3 separate regions of the Homo sapiens genome follow, and all the other regions are reported to be linked to region 1. The links are microRNA targets in miRTarBase. Many come from high-throughput screens and were not tested one by one. Region 1 holds a microRNA gene; each other region holds the end of a gene's coding sequence.
What was found. Region 1 holds the annotated microRNA hsa-miR-101-3p (UACAGUACUGUGAUAACUGAA, at 1,939-1,959, shown strand). A microRNA usually pairs through its seed, bases 2 to 8, with sites in the 3' UTR of a target mRNA and lowers its output. Matches are read on the target gene's strand: a 7mer-m8 pairs with bases 2 to 8, a 7mer-A1 pairs with bases 2 to 7 and ends in A, and an 8mer does both.

Region 2: miRTarBase lists SACM1L as a target of hsa-miR-101-3p. Seed matches in the 3' UTR shown: 8mer at 2,317-2,324.
Region 3: miRTarBase lists LEFTY1 as a target of hsa-miR-101-3p. Seed matches in the 3' UTR shown: 7mer-A1 at 1,042-1,048.

The regions. Positions count from the first base shown.
Region 1 is chr9:4,848,407-4,852,643 of GRCh38, forward strand. MIR101-2 (microRNA 101-2) reads left to right here and starts at 1,891; the gene lies at 1,891-1,969. It overlaps RCL1 (RNA terminal phosphate cyclase like 1), which reads left to right. Exons shown (of 9, transcript NM_005772.5): 8 at 1,041-1,144. It overlaps LOC124902113 (a long non-coding RNA gene), which reads left to right and starts at 1,961. Exons shown (of 2, transcript XR_007061402.1): 1 at 1,961-4,237.
Region 2 is chr3:45,743,048-45,747,284 of GRCh38, forward strand. It overlaps SACM1L (SAC1 like phosphatidylinositide phosphatase), which reads left to right. Exons shown (of 20, transcript NM_014016.5): 20 at 486-2,362. The coding sequence ends at 622. Among named protein-coding and RNA genes, the nearest start is that of SLC6A20, 51 kb to the right of the region's middle.
Region 3 is chr1:225,883,266-225,887,502 of GRCh38, reverse strand. LEFTY1 (left-right determination factor 1) reads left to right here. Exons shown (of 4, transcript NM_020997.4): 3 at 1-104; 4 at 413-1,221. The coding sequence ends at 776. Among named protein-coding and RNA genes, the nearest start is that of TMEM63A, 3.0 kb to the right of the region's middle. RefSeq lists enhancers at 1-358, 4,205-4,237.

The DNA of each region.
Region 1 (4,237 bases):
TATCTGAAAATGGATTTATTTCCTACCCTACATGCCTTAAAAAGGAGGCAGGGGCAGTTGTAGCCATATGAACCACACTGCTGGCCACCTATCCTGTTCAGTCTAGCCTTGGATAGTAACGTGCCTTGGTCAGACTGGATTTCTAATTTTGACCTGTGCAAAATATGTAGAAATTCAAGGTCATCCTTCTTTGACTATGTACAATATGTTTTAAAGTTATTCCAGAAAGAATGATCAGAAAGCGTGTTTGTATGCTTATGTATGCGTCTAGTGGAGGCAAAACAGTTAAAATGGCTGAGAAAATGAAAAACAAAAGAAGAAAGGCAACCTAAGCAGTTGTACCTCAGGAGAAAGTGTTTGAAGAGAAGTCTGTTCTGCTTGTTAATTTGGAAGAAAGGGAAGGAAAAGGGGGTGGAAGGCATAATTTTATACATAAGTAGTAAGAATAAAGGGATCTAACCTTAACAAGTCTTCAGTTTTAAGGAACTCAGGAAGAGATAAAGGAGAGAAGTTAATAGAGTATGGCAAGCAGTTTCCTGAATGTATTTGAATAAGTGTAAAAGTAAGGCCATGAAAAGGCCGTTTCATGTCAGATAGACTGTGTTGTTCTGTGACAGATTCAATAAATATGAGCGTCATCCACTTAACCCTTGGAATTAACTCTACATCTTCTAGAACTGATTAAGATTTTTTTTTTTTTGCATATACTCAATAAAGATGATGTCCTCCTGCTGCTGCTTTAATGATAAAGGGAAAGTTTCATTTTTTTTTTTTTTTACTAGATTCACTTAAGAAGATTTGAATCTGATAGTCTCATTCTGATAGTCTCAACTATTACAGTTGCTCTAATTAACTGTTAGTTTAACCCTCTACAGTTAGTTGATACAATGATTACTCTTATAAGACCTGTATTCTGTTTTATTGTTGCTTGAACTTTGGATTTTGATATTATGAGTGTATGTTTCTGGTTTTTTTTTTCCTCCTCTCTTTTGTTGGCTTTCCATTTTCTGGTTTGTACAATTATTAATTTGTGTTTACAGGGTGGATGCGTAGACTCGACCAACCAAAGCCTGGCGCTACTACTCATGACCCTTGGACAGCAGGATGTTTCCAAAGTCCTGCTAGGCCCTCTCTCTCCCTACACGTAAGTTATTCTTTTTCAACCTCGTTATTCTGTCCAGTGTAATTTTCTCATTGCCCAAAATGACAAAGGGTGTTGTGCTGCACAGAGCCTGCACTATGAACACCTGCTTGTGTTTATCCTCAAATCAGCCAGCAGTTGTCACTCTTAACCTGGTGTTTATTTTTACATACAAGGATTTTTGCATTTCTTTCCTTCCTTAATCCCAGGTAACTGAAATTGCATGATCTCTATTGGGCAGTTATTTTGTTCGTGCTTTAGATTTTGTTTCCAGGTTAGAGGTAAACTCCTGGTTTGGTGTAGCTTGGATTTTATTACTAGTTTTTTTTTAATCATTCTTTTCCTTAGCTGTCTAACTTGCTGTGGGAAAACAGGCTTTTTGTCTAAGATGATAGGATATGAGCTCACTGGGAAAGATGACAAAAGACAGAGTTTGTATTAATGCTACTGGACTAGTAGGGAATTGTAGAAGTGAGTTTGGATTGTTGAATGTTAGCAGAAGTTGACTGCTGTGGTGTAAAAGCAAGCACTCTTCAAAAAGAACAGTGTCAGAAGACTTGAATTATAAATGACACTGTGAAAGAAGCATTTCCTATTGATAGTAAATGAGGTTGCGGAAAACAGCCTATTTGAGTACTGACATTGTGTGTGTGTGTTTTCACGTGCTTGCATACTTGGAGATCATCATATGGCCCATCTGAGGTTGGTGAGCTGGGTGGCAGGGAATATTCAGGTAGATATGAGACTGAACTGTCCTTTTTCGGTTATCATGGTACCGATGCTGTATATCTGAAAGGTACAGTACTGTGATAACTGAAGAATGGTGGTGCCATCACATTGAGAAAGGGTTGAGGACTGCGGTGGGGCTATGCACCCTTGGGCCATGGCGTTGGGGGCATGAAAACCAGGAGCTTGAAATAAATTCTTATGGAGGCTTTTTTTTTTCTTTTTTTTTTTTTTTTTGGAATTCGTGGTGGGAGGTTTTTTTAGAACAGGAAAATGGAAGAGAATACATTCTGTTAGCAGAGAGGGAAGACTGATAAGCAGGAAACTGGTAAGGACCACATTATCTCCTGATAGCTTGTGTAAAAGTATTTCGTAGGACAGGATACCTAAAATTGAGTAATCCTAAATGGCGTGGTAACATCAGTAGTAAACAATGCTAAAATAGACTTGGTAGTTAAGTACTTGGAGAGGAGATGAGGGCTGGAAGAATGGCACCCTAGGTACAGAGACTCGCTTCCTGTAGAGAGCTCACTGGAGGCGGCTGCCAGCTGTGTGGCCACTGTGGCCCCACCGGCTTTGTAGCTGGGCTCGTAGCTGCCGTTTCCCAGCCCTTGCTTCAGGCCTGGGGAAGTCCTGCTTGCACACACGGTATGAGGTATGGGGTGTTGTCTTGAATGTGTGTGGTCCTGGGGCATGGGGTTTGGCAGAACATTCTGTGAAAATGGAATACATATATGTTTTTTTTCGTGACACTTTTTTTCTTTTGCTTTTGGAGATTTTTCAATTTGGCTCCAGGACCTGTATGATGTTTTCAAGCTTTGCAGAGATGCTCAAGATATGACTGGACATTTTTGAAAGTTCCTGTGTCCTCTTCAACACATCTTCTCACCAAACATTAATTGTAGTGTCTTTTCTTCCAGAAAACTTGCATAAAATGACTTCCTCTCCTGTGAAAACAGTGTCCTGCTCTGAATGGAGCTTTAAAGGAGTAGCACAAATTGTAAGATGATGTATCTTGAGGCTGGGGCTTAGAGATATTCTGCTGCCTCCCAGAGCTTTGTGCAGACGGGTCTGCCAGGGTGGGAAAGGGAAGCCTCCGTTCTTTTTGGTAAGCTAGCATAAAGACAGGTAAGGGAGTCTATTTTCAAGAAAGCTGGATCTGTTTCATACTCTTTCTGCCCCTAATCACTATGGACAGCTCCAGCAGCACAAAGAGATGAAGGGCAAAGGCAGGATGCAGCAGGCAAAGTTAACATTGTATTTGTGAGTACAGTTGAGGATAAAAAAGGGATGAAATCCACGGTGAGGACCATCATGGTGGGGGAATAGTTTATTCTAATGGATTCAAGAGCTTTGGAGACCAAACTAACACATTTATTTTTATGTGTAGTTAAAGTCATAGAAACCTGTTTTGTGAAACCTCAGATTTCTAAAGAAAACCAGAAGCAAGACCTTCCTTGGTTTAAAAAAAAAAAAGCATTTCTTCAAGCAGTTTGGACCTGTTTTTCGTGTGTATAAAACAGCTTTTTAAATGTCTATGTAAAGAGCATTGGGATTGCTGTTGGTGGTTTTCTGTGCTACTTGAGAAAGTAAGTCTGTATGTGTGAAACTCTTTTTTTTTTTTTGAGACAGAGTTTCGCTCTGTCGCCCAGGCTAGAGGGCAGAGGCGCAATCTCCGCCCACTGCAAGCTCCGCCTCCCGGGTTCAACGCCATTCTCCTACCTCAGCCTCCCGAGTAGCTGGGACTACAGGCACCCGCCACCGTGCCTGGCTAATTTTTTGTATTTTTAGTAGAGACGGGGTTTCACCATGTTAGCCAGGATGGTCTCGATCTCCTGACCTCGTGGTCCACCCGCCTTGGCCTCCCAAAGTGCTGGGATTGCAGGCCTGAGCCACCAAGTCCGGCCAATGTGAAACTCTTTTAGAAAGGCCCAAGAGATTTTTTTTCAGTAGAATAAAATACTGTTGGATAATCACTGGTATATGAAGATTCTATTTCTGTTAAATTTGTTGAGTTTTAGGTGGCTTACAGTTAGTGACAGTAGTTGCACCCTCCATTCAACAAGCTTAATTTTACAGTTTAGGGAGGGAGGATTTATACTTTTGGATTAACAGCAAGAAAAATAGCAAAAATTAAGATGCATCTTAATTAGCACTTTCAGAAATTATTTGTGGAATGAGACTGCAGTTACCAGAGCTCTCTGCATTCTGCCAGTGCACAAGTCTTGGAGTCCAGCCTATCTGGACTTAAGGCTCTACCACGCGCTACCAGGAGACCGTGGAAATGGTATTTAGCATCTTGGAGCCTTGGTGTCATTTGTAGATAAGGTGCGTGGTCCTGAAGTCCTGGACTTGTGGAGATGGAACGAA
Region 2 (4,237 bases), not on the chromosome of region 1:
GAAAAGTTATGTATAACTTATGTTTGGTATTTATGAATATTCTATTAATTTTTTGTGCAGGTGTTTTGACAATAGCTCATATCTGTTATAGAACTATGAATTAAACTTAATAGTTATTTGTATTATTAAAATATACTAAAAGTGATCATTATTATTTGTATAATATAATATGAAATCATTTAGTCCAGTGGTTCTCAAAGTGTAGCCTCTTGATCGGTAGCATCAGCATCACCTGGGTACTAGGAACTTGCTAGAATGCAGATTCCTGGGGCCCAACAGTTGATGCTTTATCAAGCCCTGCAGAAGATTCTGGTACTAGCCAGGGTTTGAGAACCACTGGTTTAAACCTTAATTAAGAGGTTCTTATATTTTTCCTGTGAATGTGCTAGTAAACTTTAATGTTGCCAAAATGTGCTAAACAGCTGAAAACTGGGTCTGATATCAACAAACGACTTATTTAGCTTTTTGTTTCTTAATATCAACAGGTGACACTTGGACAGAAACACTGGCCTATGTGCTCTTCTGGGGAGTTGCAAGCATTGGAACATTTTTTATCATTCTTTACAATGGCAAAGATTTTGTCGATGCTCCCAGACTGGTCCAGAAAGAAAAGATAGACTGAATTTGTATTTGTGGAAAGCGGCTTGGCTTGGAAGATTCCATTGTGCAGAACTGGAGTCTTTACTGACCCGCTTTCCACATCAGCCCAAGGTCTTTTTAATGCCTTTATCCAAAAGCACATCTTGTGCTCCATGCAGGATGATGACAGAATTGATCTGATGTTACTGCCTTGATGGTCTCTTTACTATTGGGACAGTTAGATTTATAATTTGAAGCTATTCTGTAATTAAAATATAACCTGAATTCAGCTTGCAGAATGGAAGCTGAATCTGTTCATTGTATTCTATTGATTGTCAATTTAATTAGCTGTTGCAGAATAAGTAATATATTTTAAAAACCTAGCTCCTTTCATTATTTAAAACAGCAAAATTATTTTTGTAGCTCAGTTTCATTATTGTCATTGTAGAAGCGGTCACTATTAGCAGGCATACTTTTCCACACATCTTTGGACTTTTCTTAAAAGTTCAGTAATAAGCTAACTGTGTTTATAAAATGTAAGTCTCTTACAGACATCAAGTAGTTTGATGAGACAGTCTGTGACTTCATGATAGGAAAGAGGAGGATGAGGTCTGGGGTTCTTTAAAGTCTCTGGTGGGCTGCCTCATGACTTTAATCAGCTTGAACTGCCAGTGCACCAGCAGTTTAGGTGTGATGAGAGAATTCAGATATACTTTATCTTTTTAAAAAAGTGTAAATAAAATCAAAGAATGTAAAGTCTATCTCTTACGCTAGAGGTCCAAAGCTGCCTCTGTTTTAAAGATTATCCCAATGTGGAAGATGCCCATGACTGGTCAGCTACTTCCTCCTATACATTTTGGTTTCTTTGAGGGTCACTCATTGAGACACGCAGGCCTCTGAGAGGGTCTTGTTCTAGATTTCATATTGCACTTGGAGGGTAACAGCTGCTTTTTCACGCATGGTACTCTTGATGTTTTTCACTCTGTCAAGGATTTTGTTGGCTATCAATGAATGTGTCTAAAACTTAGTGCTTCCAGGTAGTTATAGTACTCCAAATCAAGGACCAACTTAAACGTTAATTTTTGTGCAAAAACAAACCTGAAAAATATGCTTCGGAAACTGTGCATAGTTCTAATTGTAAGTCAGATTGTATATTCAAATTGTAATTAAGAGATTTAAATATTAGAACGGTATGTAAGGTAGTATAATTACCACTATTTTAAATAATTCAGTTAAACACTGCTGCAATATTTCAGTGTTGTGCTTGAAAATATGTACAGTTTTTTTCCAATATTAATACCTTATGTTGTCCTTAAATATTTCTAAAAGCGCCTTTATTTCAGCATTACCTTTTTTTCATCACTATCTTTTATAAAACATTAATATAAGTCGTTACTTTTAGAAACTAAAGGAAATAATAGCTGGAAAACCCTCTGTAGTTTAAAATCAGTCATTAAACTCACAATAGGGTAAGTAAATATAGCCACCTGTTAACATGTAAATAAGCATAATTTGTTCCAAAGATGGAATATTGAAACTTAGTTCATGTCTGCTGTAAAATATTATTTAAATGCTGCTGGGCATTTCACTTAAAGAACTTAATGTCAACAGCTACAACAAAGACCAAATCTGAACTGCTAATGTGGCTGCTTTGTAGGGAATGGACTAATATCAGTGTGTTAGATCTTAAGGTATCAGTATTTCAGAATCCTGCGACGATTTTATTTCTAAATTCATGTACTGTATGTCCATAAGTGAAAATAAAATGTCATATTCTTTTCTATTATTGGTATCATTCATGTACTTTGAAAGTGATGTTTTTCTTTTTGATCTTAGAATGCTAAAAATCATGCAAAATGATAGACGGTTTGGCTCTGTGTCCCCACCCACCCAAATCTCATCTCAAATTGTAATCCCTACGTGTTGAGGGAGGTACCTGGTGGGAGGTGGTTGGATCATGGGGGATGGTTTCCCCCATGCTGTTTTCATGAGTTTGCACGAGGTCTGATGGTTTAAAAGTGTTTGGCATTTACCCCCTTGCTCGCTCACTTTCCTGCCACCGTGTTAAGATGTGCTTTGCTTTCCCTTCACCTTCTGCCATGATGAAGTTTTGTGAGGCCTCCCCAGCCATGCGGAACTGTGAGTCAAACCTCTTTTCTTTATATGTTACCCAGTCTCAGGTAGTTCTTTACAGCAGTGTGAAGACAAATTAATACACAAAGCAATGCATGATCATCATAGAAAAATTAGAGTAAGCAAGAAAATCAGTAGCTTCTGCAATTTTGCTTTCCAGTTATGATCACTTAAGAAATTTTGTATCTCCTTATAGTTTTTATTTTTAGTTATAGAGAAACCCAGGGAAATATTTAGTAAAGTGTAATGTCCATAAAAAGGTGTCCCCCACCTTCAAATTGTAATTTGTTTTTCAAAATGTTATGAATCCCAGCTGATGTGGGAAAATATTGCTTATTAGAAAATGACACCTCCACAGGAAGGTGTCAGCATGAGGGAAATAGTGATGGAAACACATTGGTACCTAGTGATGGCAGCAGTGGGCCGTCTGGAGTGGCTGCTGCCATTGTGCCGGCCGTAGCAGGGAGGTGTGAGTGGTGGCTGCAGGAGCAGCCGTGGTGATGGTGAGACCCCTGTGCCCCACGTTCCCTGTGCCCCGTGTCCCTGTGGCAGCCGACTGCGCCGCCCCCACCCCTGTGTGGCCGAGTGGGGCCTGCCTCCAGGCCTGGAGCCACCACTGCTCTGGACCCTGGTCCGCGTTACCACCACTGTTGCTTGCTGTTGCCAGGAGGGCGGAGAGTCCCTGGAGCCTGCTGCAGGGATACCCCTGGAGCCTGTCTCCCGGGGGGCCGCCGCAATGTGGCCAGGTTGAGTTGCCTGCCGGCGGGGGAGCAGCGTGATTGTGCATGGAGGACCAGGCAGAGAAGGGCCACAGGCGGAGCTGGGCCCGGGGTGGTGCCATGCTTGCACATGGAGCACGGGGGCCGCGCCTGGGGTGCGGAGCTGGGGCTGTCCTTTGGGGGCCTGGAGTGGGAAGTGGGAGCGGTGCTCACTTTGGGGACACAGCCAGTGGCACGGCCACCGCACCCTTCCTGCTGACTGGCGCCGGATTCCTGCGCCTTGGGAGGAGGCTCTGCGCAGGATTTCCCAGGGCCGGATCCCCAGGGTCTGCCTCATAGCGGGGTGACCTCTGAGCCTGATGCTCCCTAGGACCAGGCCCAGGGCCTGCAATCCGCTCCTGGAGGCACTCCTGCTGGGCAGGGCTGTGAGCCAGGCAAGGGAGAGCCCTAGGCCACCCCTGAGCACTGGGACCACAGGAAGAACTTGTGGTGACGTCACTCTTGCCTCAGATGCCAGCATGGGCCCAGCAAGGAACCTGAACCCCTACCCCAGACTGCGAGGAGGCATGGCCAGAGCCGCCTGCACGTCCATGGAGCAGGTGGGAGACTCGCCTTCCCAGGCACAGGACCTGGGTATCCGCACTGTGCACCCTCGGGAGCCAGATCTCAGAGTGGGGTTGGAGCCGAAGCTGGGCATTGTCACAGCTCAGCAGGGTGTGTGCACACTTGGGGCAGCACTGAAAAGCCAGCCTCCTGCCACGTCGGCCCCCTCTGGACTTTGGGCACCAACAAGCACTGGTGGAGGG
Region 3 (4,237 bases), not on the chromosome of region 1:
GCGTCCGGCGCCCACAAGCTGGTCCGCTTTGCCTCGCAGGGGGCGCCAGCCGGGCTTGGGGAGCCCCAGCTGGAGCTGCACACCCTGGACCTTGGGGACTATGGGTAGGTGCTGAGGGTCAAACTGGTAAGCCGGAATAAAGAGACAGGCAATTACATTTATTTTGAAATGGACAACTTTTCAGAGTGCTGTGGGAATGAATGAGACAATGTATACAATTCTTCCTCTGACTCTTAGGAGATCCTCAGTAAATATCGGTTATTAATTTTCAAGTTATTTCTAGCTGTCCATCCTATATCACAAACATCCAGCTTTTTGAAGTTGAGAGGTGGATCATAAATCTCCATCCCAGACGCCCTCTGACCTCAGCCCTCCCAGCTGACCGCTGACCCTGCTCTCTTTGCCCACACAGAGCTCAGGGCGACTGTGACCCTGAAGCACCAATGACCGAGGGCACCCGCTGCTGCCGCCAGGAGATGTACATTGACCTGCAGGGGATGAAGTGGGCCGAGAACTGGGTGCTGGAGCCCCCGGGCTTCCTGGCTTATGAGTGTGTGGGCACCTGCCGGCAGCCCCCGGAGGCCCTGGCCTTCAAGTGGCCGTTTCTGGGGCCTCGACAGTGCATCGCCTCGGAGACTGACTCGCTGCCCATGATCGTCAGCATCAAGGAGGGAGGCAGGACCAGGCCCCAGGTGGTCAGCCTGCCCAACATGAGGGTGCAGAAGTGCAGCTGTGCCTCGGATGGTGCGCTCGTGCCAAGGAGGCTCCAGCCATAGGCGCCTAGTGTAGCCATCGAGGGACTTGACTTGTGTGTGTTTCTGAAGTGTTCGAGGGTACCAGGAGAGCTGGCGATGACTGAACTGCTGATGGACAAATGCTCTGTGCTCTCTAGTGAGCCCTGAATTTGCTTCCTCTGACAAGTTACCTCACCTAATTTTTGCTTCTCAGGAATGAGAATCTTTGGCCACTGGAGAGCCCTTGCTCAGTTTTCTCTATTCTTATTATTCACTGCACTATATTCTAAGCACTTACATGTGGAGATACTGTAACCTGAGGGCAGAAAGCCCAATGTGTCATTGTTTACTTGTCCTGTCACTGGATCTGGGCTAAAGTCCTCCACCACCACTCTGGACCTAAGACCTGGGGTTAAGTGTGGGTTGTGCATCCCCAATCCAGATAATAAAGACTTTGTAAAACATGAATAAAACACATTTTATTCTATAATTTTGTAATTTTCTATTTTATTTTAATTAATTAATTATTTTTGAGACAGAGTCTCACTCTGTCACCCAGGCGGGAGTGCAGTGGCCCAATCTCGGCTCACTGCAGCCTCTGCCTTCCAGGTTCAAGCGATTCTCATGCCTCAGCATCTTGAGTAACTGGGATTACAGGCATGTACCACCACGCCAAGCTAATTTTTTGTATTTTTATTATTATTATTATTGAGACAGCTCTGTCGCCCAGGCTGGAGTACAGATGGCGCTATGTTGGCTCACTGCAAGCTCTGCCTCCCGGGTTCACACCATTCTCCTGCCTCAGCCTCCCGAGTAGCTGGGACTACAGGTGCCTGCCACCATGCCTGGCTAATTTTTTGTATTTTTTAGTAGAGACAGGGTTTCACTGTGTTAACCAGGATGGTCTCAACCTCCTGACCTCGTGATCCGCCTGCCTCGGCCTCCCAAAGTGCTGGGATTACAGGCGTGAGCCACTGCACCTGGCCTAATTTTTTGTATTTTTAGTAGAGATGGGGTTTTGCCATGTTGCCCAGGCTGGTCTGGAACTCCTGACCTCAAGTCATTCGGCAGCCTCAGTCTCCCAAAGGGCTGGGATTACAGGCACAAGCCACTGTGCCCGGCTGTAATTTTCCATTTTAATCAAAGCTCTGCAAATTGAGGAAGGAGCAGAAAGTTCTACAGCGATTAGGTCAACCTGATTGTAAAACTAAGGAAGGAGCTTGAGTTGGCCAAGACTTGGTAAAGATCTTGGTTAGGTAATACATGAAACTAGGATTAAAATGCTTTCAGGGCCAGCACGATGGCTCACTTCTGTAATCCCAGCACTTTGGGAGGCCGAGGTGGGCGGATCACTTGAGGCCAGGAGTTCAAGACCAGCCTGGCCAACATGGTGAGAGTGCATTTCTACTAAAAATACAAAAATTAGCTGGGCATGGTGGTGTGCGCCTATAATTCCAGCCACTCGGGAGGCTGAGGCATGAGAATCGCTTAAACCCAAGAGGCGGAGGTTGCAGTAAGCTGAGATCACACTACTGCACTCCAGCCTGGGCAATAGAGTGAGATTCTGTCTCAAAAATAAAATAAATAAAAATAAAATGCATTCTGATTCTAGAATCTATGGTACCTGCCCTCCCAGAATTGATACAGAAATTTCTTTTTTTTTTTTTTTGAGACGGAGTCGCCCAGGCTGGAGTACAGTGGCAGGAGTGCAGTGGCGCGATCTCCGCTTACTGCAAGCTCCGCCTCATGGGTTCACGCCATTCTCCTGCCTTAGCCTCCCGAGTAGCTGGGACTACAGGTGCCCGCCACCACGCCCGGCTAATTTTTTTGTATTTTTAGTAGAGATGGGGTTTCACCATGTTAGCCAGGATGGTCTCTATCTCCTGACCTTGTGATCCGCCCACCTCGGCCTCCCAAAGTGCTGGGATTACAGGCATGAGCCACCGCGCCCGGCCAATACTGAAATTTTTTTGTTCTTGACACTTTGACTTTCCTGGGCATAGTGACTGGGCTTTATTCCAATCCTACTTGCATCAAAATAAAATCTGTGATCAAAATTATCATCTATACTTAGAGAAGAAAATAAAGCTTCAGAGGATCTGGAATTTATAGCTGTAAGAGCTGTGCAGCTGGGCGCGGTGGCTCACGTCTATAATCCTGAGGATCACCTGAGGTTGGGAGTTTGAGACCAGCCTGACCAACATAGAGAAACCCCGTCTCTACTAAAAGTACAAAATTAGCCGGGTGTGGTGGCACATGCCTATAATCCCAGCTACTTGGGAGGCTGAGGCAGGAGAATCGCTTGAAGCCAGGAGGTGGAGGTTGCAGTGAGCTGAGATCACACCACTGTACTACAGCCTGGGCGACAGAGTGAGACTGTGTCTCAATAAGTAAATAATTAATTAAAAATTAAAAAATAAAATAGTGATTTTACAAGCACTTCACACAACTGACATAACAAAGGCTGTGGCTATCTCAACTCACATATCGATCCATCAAGGCCTTCTCTTGATTTTGAAATAACCTTAACCTACTCAAGAACAAATTTAGAAATCCTTTCTCTCTCTGAAATCTTTGTCAGTGGCTCCAGCATTCTAATTACCAAGACCGGAACCTTGCACTTGCCTGGACCCATGGCACAGACCAGACAGGTGGGGGCACCATTCATTGAGGAAGGAAGGAGGACAGGCAGGTGCGGGAGTGGGGAGTGGAAGAAAGATTGGACAGGGACAGTCTAAGGAGCCAACGGGGAGTCCAGGGGCCACACCCAGGACTCTGCAGACCGTCAGATGTGGAGGTAAGAGAGCAGGGAGGGGGGATGGCCAGGCGCAGCTATGGAGGGACAAGGGCAGAGATGATACTGGCGGGGGGCATAGAGGAAAAACCCTGGAAAATAACTAGTGGCTAGAGCTTTGGGGAGAGAAGGGGAAAGACAGATGGGACAGAAAAGAACTGAGAGAGGCAGGAAGAGACCCTCCCCACCCCACTCCTGGACAGCCACAGACTGGCGCTAGAATCAGGGACAGGGAGGTAAGGAGGAATTTTTTTTTTTTTTTTTTTTTTTTTGAGACAGAGTTTCGCTCTTGTTGCCCAGGCTGGAGTTCAATGGTGAAATCTCAGCTCACCGCAACCTCCGCCTCCCAGGTTCAAGCGATTCTCCTGCCTCAGACTCCCTAGTAGCTGGGATTACAGGCATGTGCCACCACACCCGGCTAATTTTGTATTTTTAGTAGAGACGGGGTTTCTCCATGCGGGTCAGGCTGGTCTCGAACTCCAGACCTAAGGTGATCCGCCCACCTCGGCCTCCCAAAGTGCTGGTATTACAGGCATGAGCCACCGCGCCCGGCCATAAGGAGGATATTTTTATGCCGTTACAGAAAAAGATGAAAGCTCAGAAATGGAAGGGAGGTCGGAGAACCTGCAAAGGCATGCATGTGGGGTGAGGACTGCTCAGAGCTCAGAGAGGGGTGCTGGAAGGGACCTGAGAGGAAGCTTTGGTCCAA